3 linked regions of the Homo sapiens genome follow. The protein of the gene in region 2 purifies or fractionates together with the protein of the main gene of each other region. This does not show direct contact. Each region holds a gene or a part of one and is shown on either strand. Other genes may lie near its edges. The genes, in order: CTSB, PTPN18 and TIPRL.

Region 1 (3,655 bases), on a different chromosome or scaffold from region 2:
AGCACAAGACATGCCGAAGAAGGCTGCAGACAGGTGTCCTTGGTAATTTCATAAAACAAAAGGAAATTCTGTTGCTCAATGCACCTTTTGATTTTTTTTTTGGGTGGGACGGGAGGGTGGGAGTGGACAGAATTTCACTGTGTCATCCAGGCTGGAGTGCAGTGGCGAGATCTCTGCCCACTGCAACCTCTGCCTCCTGAGTTCAATCGATTCTCGTGCCTCAGCCTCCTGAGTAGCTGGGATTACAGGCATGCACCACCACACCCGGCTAATTTTTGTATTTTTAGTAAAGACAGGGTTTCACCATGTTGGCCAGGCTGGTCTTAAACTCCTGGCTTCAAATGATCTGCCTGCCTTGGCCTCCCAAAGTGCTGGGATTACAGGCATGATCCACCACACCTGGCCTGACTTGCGATATTGTACGCTTCTTTCTAGGCTTATGTAATGGATTTTTTAAGATGAATTTATCCACAAATTATAAACTCATTTTTAAATAAGTTTATTCAGTCCAGATAGTGTTTCTTGCCCTGCTCTCCTGCCTCAACCTCTGCCCAGGATCCTCTCATCATTTCTCATATCATCCCCATTGTGCAGAAGGCAGTGTCGTGCAACTTAACTACCCCATCCTCACGTGGGAAGTGGCATCATCTCAGCTCACCGCAACCTCTGCCTCCCGGGTTCATGCGATTCTCTAGCCTCAGCCTCCCGAGTAGCTGGGATTACAGGCGCCCGCCACCACGCCTGGCAAAGTTTTTTATTTTTAGTAGAGACGGGGTTTCATCATGTTGGTCAGACTGGTCTCGAACTCCTGACCTCAGGTGATCCGCTTGCCTTGGCATCCCAAAGTGCTGGGATTACAGGCGTGAGCCACCATACTTGGCCTCATCTGGCTTTTCTTAGATTTCCCTTAAATTACTCAAGATTGAGTCTGCCCACATAGTGGGGACCCAGACCTTGTCTGTCACATCTGCGGCTGAGACACCTTGGAGAAGCACAATAGAAAACACTGGGGGTGGCTCATGCCGGTAATCCCAGCACTCTGGGATGCCGAGTTGGGCAGATGACTTGCTGAGGCCAAGAGTTCGAGACGAGCCTGGCCAGTATGGCGAAACCCAGTCTCTACTAAAAATACAAATATTAGCCGTGCACGGTGGTGCAAGCCTGTGGCCCCAGCTACTCAGGAGGCTGTGGCATGAGAATCGCTTGAACCCGGGAGACAGAGTTTGCAGTGAGCCAAGATCGTGCCACTGCACTCCAGCCTGGGTGACAGAGTGAGACTCTCTCAAAAACCAAAAAAAAGCACCAGCATCTTCTCTACTAATAACTTGAGAAGGAAAAAATAAAATAAAAAGAGAAAGTAATATAAAAATGAAAAGAAACAAGTACTGTACCTCAAGCGGTGTCGGCAGCCCTGGGCAGCATGAGCCCTGCGGACGCCAGAGAGGCCTTCACTCTCCCACTTCCCACTGCCCCAAACCAACGCCTGCCACTCACATTACAGCGGTGCAGAGGAGCAGGCACTCACCTCTGGGGTGGCTTGGGCCCACCCAGGAAGGTACCACATAGCCTCTTCAAGTAGCTCATGTCCACGTTGTAGAAGTTGTGCCCGGCCTGGAAGAGAGTCACCCACTGACTGAAGGGTCTCCCGGGATGGCGGTGGATGGGCACGCTGCCCACACACGAAGCCCAACCCAGGGAAAACCAGAGACCCTACCCAATTCAAGGGCCCAAGGGTTGGGGGGCACTGGGGAACAGCCCAGAGTGACACACGGGCAGAGTGGGTGTCTCCCCTGATCTGCTCCCATTTGCTGACAATCAGAGACCCTCTCCAGCCCTCAACATGGCTCACTCCTCATTCTTGGTTCTCAGTCCGAGGGTCAGGGCTGGGCAGAGACAAAGGGAATCAGGGGCGGGACTGATAAACTGCCACTGTGCCACGGCGGGCGTCACAGGGGCTAGCTGGTTTTGAACACTTCCGAAGCTCACTTACTCCCCCACACACCTCCACGTGCACACAACCATATATTCATACACATGCACACACACTCATGCACACACGTGGGGTATGGGACAAAGGAGGGAGGCGTGGTCCAGAGCCGACATGACTCAGGGTCAGGGCCATTTTTCAACAGTCCAGGACAATGTTCTGTGGGCCACAGTGAGGGCTGGCTTCCCATTCCTGGAGTCAGTGTGCACAGACCGACCTGGGAGGGGACATACATAGGACGCAGCCCCACAGCCTACCTGCCACGTGGTATTCCGTTTGTTGACATAGTTGACCAGCTCATCCGACAGGGGATGGAAAGAGGGCCTGCTCCGGGCATTGGCCAACACCAGCAGGCAGCAGAGGGAGGCCCAGAGCTGCCACATGTTGGAAGCCGGATCCTAGATCCACCTGGAGAGGACAGAGGGCATCAGGACACCTCTCTGTTATGTGGGTCGAGGGCTCACACACACAGGGGCACCGTCTCGGGCATCAGTGGGGACCCCCATGCTCGTCCTGGCCCAGGCGGAGAACTCTTAAGGAGCTGAGGTGTCTATGGGATCCCCGCCCCCCTGCCCGAAGCACGCCATGACCTCGTGTGGGTCCCCGGGGGCCAGGCGGCCAGAGCCCAGAGAGAGAGCCAAGGGGCTGTGCTGGACGAGACCGAGTCCAGGGCCTTCGCTGCTATTTTTAAACGGCCTTTGCATGGATTTGTAGAACAGCTTGAGACACTTTCCCAAGTGAGTGATATGAAACAGTTAAGAGCCTGTCTGTGTGATTACACCCTAAGTGGAGGACCCAGGGGACAGGGAAATGTAAGAAAAGTTACAATCCAGGAGTCCTAGTTTCGACAGGACACAGACAAACAAGCTCGGTGTGGGCTGGTGGAGGTTGAGGCTGAGAGGTGGGGCTGGGCTGGCCATCCACCCACTCCCGGGGCCTCTCTGGTTTTTCCAGTCAGCCAAGGGCTCTGCTTCCGGCTGCGGAGATGAGGCTTCTGAGAAGGAAAACTCTCACCTCGATGCCCCAGCCGTTTGATCTTGCACTGGCTCATGAGTCACAAGCCAGTGCTTTCCAGCTTGAACTCTGAGTCACCCTCCTAAGTGAGCAGCTCAACAAAAGCAATACATGTCTCCTGGGCGCCTGCATCCAGGGCTGGGGAGAGCCGCGGCGCGGGGAGCTGGGTGAGGCAGGGGTTCCTGTCAGTCACTCCAGGGGCTCCCACGGGTGGGTGAGGTGTTCTACCTCCCACAGGTCACAGGTCGTCATGAAAGTCACAGGACTGCGGTGTCAGTGCTTAACAAACTGCCTGGCACCTAGGGGTTCTATCTGAAGAACAATTTAAACTTCATTGTTGCTTAAGCAACAATTCATCTAGGAGAATAAATATATGAGGACAGCAAGATGGCTCTGGAAAAAAGCTTTTTTTTTTTTTTTGAGACAGGGTCTTGGTCTGTGGGCCATGTCACCCAGTCTGGGGTACAGTGGCACAATCTTGGCTCACTGCAGCCTCCACCTCCCAGGTTCTTAGCCTCCCAAGTAGCTGGGATTACAGGTGTGCGCCACCACACGCACCTAATTTCTGTATTTTTAGTAGAGATGGGGTTTTACCATGTTAGCCAGGCTGGTCTCGAACTCCTGACCTCAGGTGATCCACTGGCCTCAGCCTCC
Region 2 (3,655 bases):
TCAGAGTGAGAATTTTTTATTAATCTATTGCATAGTAATTATTCCCTTATTAGCTATACATCTTTATTTTAAATATTTAGTTGTGGCTTTAGGGTTTACAATATATATCTTTAACTTATAGTCTATAGTCAAATAATATTCTACATTTCATGTAAAATGTCAGAACTTTACTGTAGTATATTTCGATTACCCCTTTCCATGCTTTGTGCTATTGTTACTATATATTATAGTTCTATATATAAAATATACTCCACAGTACACTGCTATTATAGTTGTTTTAGAATATCTTTTTAAACAGCTTTATTGATATACAATTCAGTCATTTAAAGTGTACAGTTCCATCATTTTTCTATATTCCTGAGCTATGCAACTATTACCACAGTAAGATTTTTGTTTTTGTTTTTGTTTTTGTTTTTGAGACGGAGCCTCGCTCTGTCCTCCAGGCTGGAGTGCAATGGCGCGATCTCAGCTCGCTGCAACCTCCGCCTCCCGGGTCCACGCCATTCTCCTGCCTCAGCCTCCCGAGTAGCTAGGACTACAGGCGCCTGCCACCACGCCCGGCTAATTTTTTGTATTTTTAGTAGAGACGGGGTTTCACCGTGTTAGCCAGGATGGTCTCAATCTCCTGACCTCGTGATCCGCCCACCTCAGCCTCCCAAAGTGCTGGGATTACAGGCATGAGCCACCGTGCCCGGCCTACCACAATAAGTTTTTGAACATTTTCATCATTCCATAAAAAAATCCAGGCCAGACATGGTGGCTCATGCCTGTAATCCCAGCACTTTGGGAGGCTGAGACTGGTGGATCACGAGGTCAGGAGATCAAGACCATCCTGGCCAACATAGTGAAACCCCGTCTCTACTAAAAATACAAACATTAGCTGGGCATGGTGGCATGTGCCTGTAATCCCAGCAACTCGGGAGGCTGAGGCAGAAGAATAGCTTGAACCAGGGAGTTGGAGGTTGCAGTGAGCTGAGATTGTGCCACTACACTGCAGCCTGGCCACAGAGCAAGACTGTCTCTCAAAAAAAAAGAAAAAGAAAAGAAATCCTATATCCATTAGCAGTCACTCCCCATTTCCCAGCAACCTCTACAGCCCCAGACAATCCCTAATCTATTTTTGCCTTTATACATTTGCTTACTTTGGACATTTCATATAATTGAATCACATAATATGTAGCCTTTTTTTGCTTAGCATTTTTGTTTTGTTTTGTTTTGTTTGCTGAATACTATTCCATTGAATGGATCTACCACATTTTACTTATTGGTTGACAGAAATTGGGTTCTTTCTACTTTTTGGCTATTATGAACAGTGCTGCTATCAACACTGATATACAAGTCTCTGTGTAGATGTGGGTTTTCATGTCTCTTGGGTATTGCTGGGAATTGCTGGGCTATATGGAAACTCTATTTTTAACATTTTGAGGAAGTGCCAAACTGTTTTCCACAGTGGCAGCATCATTTTACATTTCCACGGCAATGTTTGAGGGTCCCCATTTCTTCTCCCTGATGCTTGTTACTGTCTTTTTTTTTTTTTTAATTATAGCCATCCTAGGGGTTGTGAAGTGGTATGCCATTGTGTCTTTCTTTAAATTATGTGGTAAAATATACATAACATAAAATTTGCCAGTTTATAGGTGCTGTGAGGAATGTTAAAAATAATTTTGCCATTTAAACCATTTCAAGTGTACAATTCAATTGAATTAAGTACATTCACAATGGATTAACCATTCCTACTGTCTATTTTCAGAACATGTTCATCATCCCAAACAGAAATTCTGTATTCATTAAACAATAACTCCCCATTCCCCCATTTCCAGGTAACCTCTATTCTCCTTTCTGTCCCTATGAATTTGCCTATTCTAGGTACCTCATGCAAGTGGAATCAGGAATACACTAATATACAATACTTGTCCTTTTTTCAAGGTTCATCCATGTTGCAGTGTGTATCAGAATTTCACTGTTTTCAAGGCCAAATAATATTTCATTGTATGTATATATCACATTTTGTTTATCCATTCGCCTGTTGGACATCTGGGTTGTTTGTACCTTTTGACTATTGTAAATAAGGCGGCTACAAACATTGGTATACAGGCTGGACACAGTGGCTCACGCCTGTAATCCCAGCACTTTGGGAGGCCGAAGCAGGCAGATCACGAGGTCAGGAGATCGAGACCAGCCTGGCTAACACGATGAAATCCCACCTCTACTAAAAATACAAAAAATTAGCCAGGCGTGGTGGCAGCCGCCTGTAGTCCCAGCTACTCGGGAGGCTGAGGCAAGAGAATGGTGTGAACCCATGAGGCGGAGCTTGCAGTGAGCCGAGATCGCACCACCGCACTCCAGCCTGGGCGACAGAGCGAGACTCCGTCTCAAAACAACAACAACAACAACAACAAAAAATTGGTATACTAGTATCTGTTTGAATCCCTGTTTTCAGTTCCCTGGGTATACACCTAGCATGGAATTGCTGGATCATATGATAACGCTATGTTCAACATTTTGTTTTCCACAGTGGCTGTACCATTTTACGTTCCCATCAGCAGAGAGAGAGAGAGGGAGGGAGGGACATGTGTAGTTTAATGACAGGGATATGGTCTGCATTGTTAAGACTATCTTGTCATTGTGTAAACATCATAGAGTATACTTACACAAACATAGATAGTATATACATTTTTTATTTATATATTTTTCATATGGAAAACCAAATGTCCCAGCACCATTACTGAGTATCAATCATTTCCCCAACTTAATATGCAGTGTCAATATCAAGTGCCATGTATCAGGTTTCTACATATGCTCCATTATAATCTATGGCACCACCATTGTATATGTGGTCTGTTGTTAACCAAAACATCATTATGTGGCATATGACAATGACATATATGCCATCCTAATGAGTGGGAAGTGGTACCTCATTGTGGTTTTGGTTTTCATGTGCTTATTCGTCCATTTGTATATCTTCTCTGGCCAAATGTCTATTCATGTCATTTATTCATTTTAAAATTGGGCTATTTGGGGTTGTCTTTTTATTATTGAGTTGTAAGCGTTATTCTGTATATAAGTCCCTTATCAGTACATGATTTAAAATGTCTTTCCCATTCTGTGGGTTGTCATTCCACTTTCTTGATGGTGTGTTTTGAAGCACAAACATTTTGTGAAACTTTAATTCCAATCTATTGTGTTGCTGTGCTTTTGGTGTATCTGAGAAGTCATTGTCTAATCAGAGGTCATAAAGACTTACTCCTGTTCTTCCTTCTAAGTGTTTTATAGTTTTCTTGCTTACAGTTAGGTCTCAGATTTACTTTGAATGAACTTTTGTATGTGATGTGAGATAGGGGTCCACATTCACTCTTTTGCATGTGACTATCCAGTTGTTCCAGCACCATTTGTTGAAAAGACTATGCTTTGCCCATTGAACCGTCTTGGCCCCTTTGTTGAAAATTAATTGGCCATAAATATAAGGGTTTATTTCTGAACTCTCAATTTTATTAAGCTGATTGATGTGTTTATCCTTGTGCCAGTGTAACATAGTTTTGATTATTATACCTTTGTAGAAGTTCTGAAATCAGGAAGTATGAGTCTTCCAAATTTGTTCTTTTTTCCAAGATTGTTTTGGCTATTTTGGGTAGGTCCCCTGCTGTGCAGAAGAGTT
Region 3 (3,655 bases), on a different chromosome or scaffold from region 2:
AGTGCTGGGATTACAGGCGTGAGCCACTGCGCCTGGCCCCAATCTCTTCTCAAGCAGGGCTTACACACACAGGACTTAATACTAATATAGAGCTTTAGAATTTATTGAGAGCTTCCCATAAATTATTTCACATCAAAACTCTGCTTTGAGGTAGATATTTCTGTTTACCCAATTTATTGATAAAACTGAGACTCAAATTAAGTAACTTCCTAAAGTCATTTCAGGTTCATACTCAGGGCAGACAGGGCATAAACCTACTTTGTCTAACCAGAAGTTCTTTTTGCTCATATATTTGTTCATCTATAAACTTGTGAGCTACAAGCTAGCAGGTTCTGTCTAAATCATGTAATACATTACCAAGGCCCGAAACACATTTTAATGTTTCTTGATAGTGATAATGATAACAACAAGGCCGTCTGCCGTTGCCACCAACTACACTTTTAAAAATAAATTTTTCCACTAATGCCGTCTTTTATTTTCTACTGATAAGTCAACAAGCAAAACCCCCTCACATTAGGTTCTGAGGAATGCCACAACAGAAAACAAGGACGATAAAAATAGTTGCAAAAAATAACCCGTTACTAGAAAGTTCTAATGCTCAGACTGTCCAAGACAATCAATGACTCATGAAAGAAAAAAGTAAGATTTACCTTTAACTTAAGAGATTCTCCAAGTAAGGTTCCCTTATAATCTGTTGTATAGGTCCAATCATATGGTTTAATAACCTCTTTGGAGTGTTCACCCTCCGTCCTCAAATACCAAAATGAGAAGGATCAGATTCAGTGATGCAGAATAGAGATTATCTGTATTTATATATCACATCAAATTATATTCTATAATAACATATCCTATTAAATATATACACTTGTTATAATTCACCAGTACAAGGTTTTTCTTACAGTTTTTCTGCATTTATTATTTAACTTGTCATGTACTGATGTAGTCTTTTCAATTAGTCTGTATACAGCCTGAGGACATGGTTTAAAGGTTTATACTTATTTGTATCATCTAAGGTACTTAGTACATATTAGGCACAAAGTAAATAATTGCTGATTTGACTATCAAAGAAAAACATGTTGTCTTAATTTCAATGCTTCTCAAATAGGGTATTTATTAAGCATATCATAAGTAAACATTTTTTCTTAAAAACAGGAACATTAAGTATAGCCTACTGCCTCTTCAGTAAGGAACACTGAAAAATCGAAAACGTACATAGCTCAGCTCAGTTGTAATTCACTTTAACAAGTATTCAAGCAGTGGGGTAATTAACTTCCATTTTTATGTCTGAGAAAAACGAATTCTAGAATGATACAACTCTCAAGTTTAATAATACCAGCCCTTCATTCTAACAACACACACGTATCATTACTGAATATTTTTTCAAGTCTTTTCTCTTTTGTTTAACCTAATTACCTTTTTTGTTTAACCTAATTGACCGGATTCTCACCTGCTTTCTTGCCACTCTTCAGCACAGGCCACTTTAAGCATTCCTTGGTAGTTGTTTACACATCTTAACGCATCTGTAGCATTGAACTCAATTCCAAAGCCAGACCCATGCTGGATTCTTAAAACGTTGTCTCCAAACATCATTTCAGGGAGAGATGGCATATGTAATTCATCGGCTAATCTATACGTAACCAAAAGTCGGGTGAGATAATTTTATATCGCTGTTGGCATTTTTGTTTCTTTTCCATCCCAACAGAATTCTTCCTACTTGCTGAATGAGTTACACAGCACATGATTTAATCAATATGATATATTTGCAAGGTCTATAAAATGCTTTCATCATCCATTCTTTCATCATCATATGGCACTGTACTAAGTAGTGGGCTAAATAAGATAAATATACAAATACGTAATATAATAGCTTATTATACTACTATAATATATAGCACACAGATATTACTATAATATATATCATGAGGGTATGAAGAAAAGATAGCAAAGCAATTAAAGATACTGTCTCTTGTAGGAAAATAATTTTTCCATTAAAATTCTCAATTGTTAAAAGTTTCAAAACGTGGTGATGAAAAAAGCAAAAGCACCTGACACTGATGAGGGAACTCAGCACTTGCCTACACAGACTTTCAGAAGGATTGTGTCAATTTACATTTCACCCTGGGGCAACAATCAAGCAAAAAAAAAAAAAAATCACAGGAATTTAACATAATTTACACACTTATGACCCAAAGTATCAGTTTTAGAATACCTGTACTAAAGAATAATTCCAAGTACAGAAAAATATTATACACATTAATACTTATAATGGCTTTACTTATAATCATGAAAAAGAAATACTCTGAATGTTTCATTATAAAGCAACAAATGATTATGCAAACCAAAGTATATCCATATGATGAAATATTATGGAACCATTACAAATGTTTAAAGAGAGACTATAATAATATGAAAAAATGCTTATGATAAAATAGTAAGAAAAAAACTGGACACACATTGTATATTTATTACATCTAAACGTGTATTTCTGTGTGCACATATCAGTGATCTAACTTTGAGGTGCAGGTCTTCAGGACTGCACAATGTTAACAATGGTCTTCAGGACTAACAATGTTAACTTTCATCATAATTTTAAGTAAAATTTATTCTTTGTTATTAGGAGATAGAAAATATTAAATACTTAAAAGATTAGATACAATAAACTGTAATTGGAATATATATTCCATAAGATTCCATAAAATAAGTTTTAACTTGAATAATGCATACCAAATGTGAAATAATATGTGAGTCTGTGGATTCTAACCAATATATCTGGAAAAATGTGGCAGTCCTATAAAATATTCCACTCATATATGTAAAAGAATCACTGTTACTAATTTACAGTCCTTCAGTGTTCTAAATATAGAGTTTCTTAAACATAGGCCAAAATGCCCTCTTTTTTTTTTGAGACGGAGTCTCGCTCTGTTGCCCAGGTTGGAGTGCAATGGCACGATCTTGGCTCACTGCAACTTCCGCCTCCCAGATTCAAGCAATCCTCCTGTTTCAGCCTTCCTAGGAGCTGGGATTACAGGCACGTGCCACCATGCCCGGCTAATTTTTGTATTTTTAGTAGAAACAGGGTTTCACCATGTTGGCCAGGCTGGTCTCGAACTCCTGACCTCAGGTGATCCACCTGCCTCGGTCTCCCAAAATGCTGGGATTACAGGCGTGAGTCACCGCGCCCGGCCTGAAAATGCCCTATTTCTAACATCATCAAGCTTCCCACTTAAAAACAGGTATAACTAGTTACAAGGAGAGAAGACAGGAAGCTCCTGTGGTTTTAAGGTGCCTTAAATATTCATTAGAAGAGCTTCTTTAATCCAATATTTTACCCAACCAATTTATTTAGCACCTTAGTGGTTTTTACAATCTATGATAATGCATCACAGAAAAATTTGGGATTGGTGAGGGTAAGTCTTCCTTTTGTCATATAAAAAAAGGCATTTTTTTTTTTTTGGCGGAGGGTGGGGGACGGAGTCTTACTCTGTCATCCAGGCTGGAGCACAGTGGCACGATCTCAGCGTACTGCAACCTCTACCTCCCAAGTTCAAGTGATTCTCGTGCCTCAGCCTTCAGAGTAGCTGGGATTACAGGCCTGCACCACCACCCCCAGATAATTTTTTTTGTATTTCTAGTAGAGGCGGGGTTACACCATGTT

The links.
Region 1: the proteins of PTPN18 (region 2) and CTSB purify together in Homo sapiens (affinity purification with mass spectrometry, with the first as the bait; one large-scale study listed by BioGRID). This does not show direct contact.
Region 3: the proteins of PTPN18 (region 2) and TIPRL purify together in Homo sapiens (affinity purification with mass spectrometry; one large-scale study listed by BioGRID and IntAct). This does not show direct contact.

What each region holds. Positions count from the first base shown.
Region 1 is NC_000008.11:11,851,085-11,854,739, forward strand, and holds part of CTSB (cathepsin B isoform 1 preproprotein), read right to left. Parts: intron 2,396-3,655; 5' UTR 2,371-2,395; coding exon 2,245-2,370; intron 1,612-2,244; coding exon 1,526-1,611; intron 1-1,525. UniProt on the Homo sapiens protein: Thiol protease which is believed to participate in intracellular degradation and turnover of proteins. Cleaves matrix extracellular phosphoglycoprotein MEPE. Involved in the solubilization of cross-linked TG/thyroglobulin in the thyroid follicle lumen.
Region 2 is NC_000002.12:130,362,422-130,366,076, forward strand, and holds part of PTPN18 (tyrosine-protein phosphatase non-receptor type 18), read left to right. Parts: intron 1-3,655. UniProt on the Homo sapiens protein: Differentially dephosphorylate autophosphorylated tyrosine kinases which are known to be overexpressed in tumor tissues.
Region 3 is NC_000001.11:168,181,874-168,185,528, reverse strand, and holds part of TIPRL (TIP41-like protein), read right to left. Parts: intron 1,628-3,655; coding exon 1,448-1,627; intron 751-1,447; coding exon 651-750; intron 1-650. UniProt on the Homo sapiens protein: May be a allosteric regulator of serine/threonine-protein phosphatase 2A (PP2A). Isoform 1 inhibits catalytic activity of the PP2A(D) core complex in vitro. The PP2A(C):TIPRL complex does not show phosphatase activity.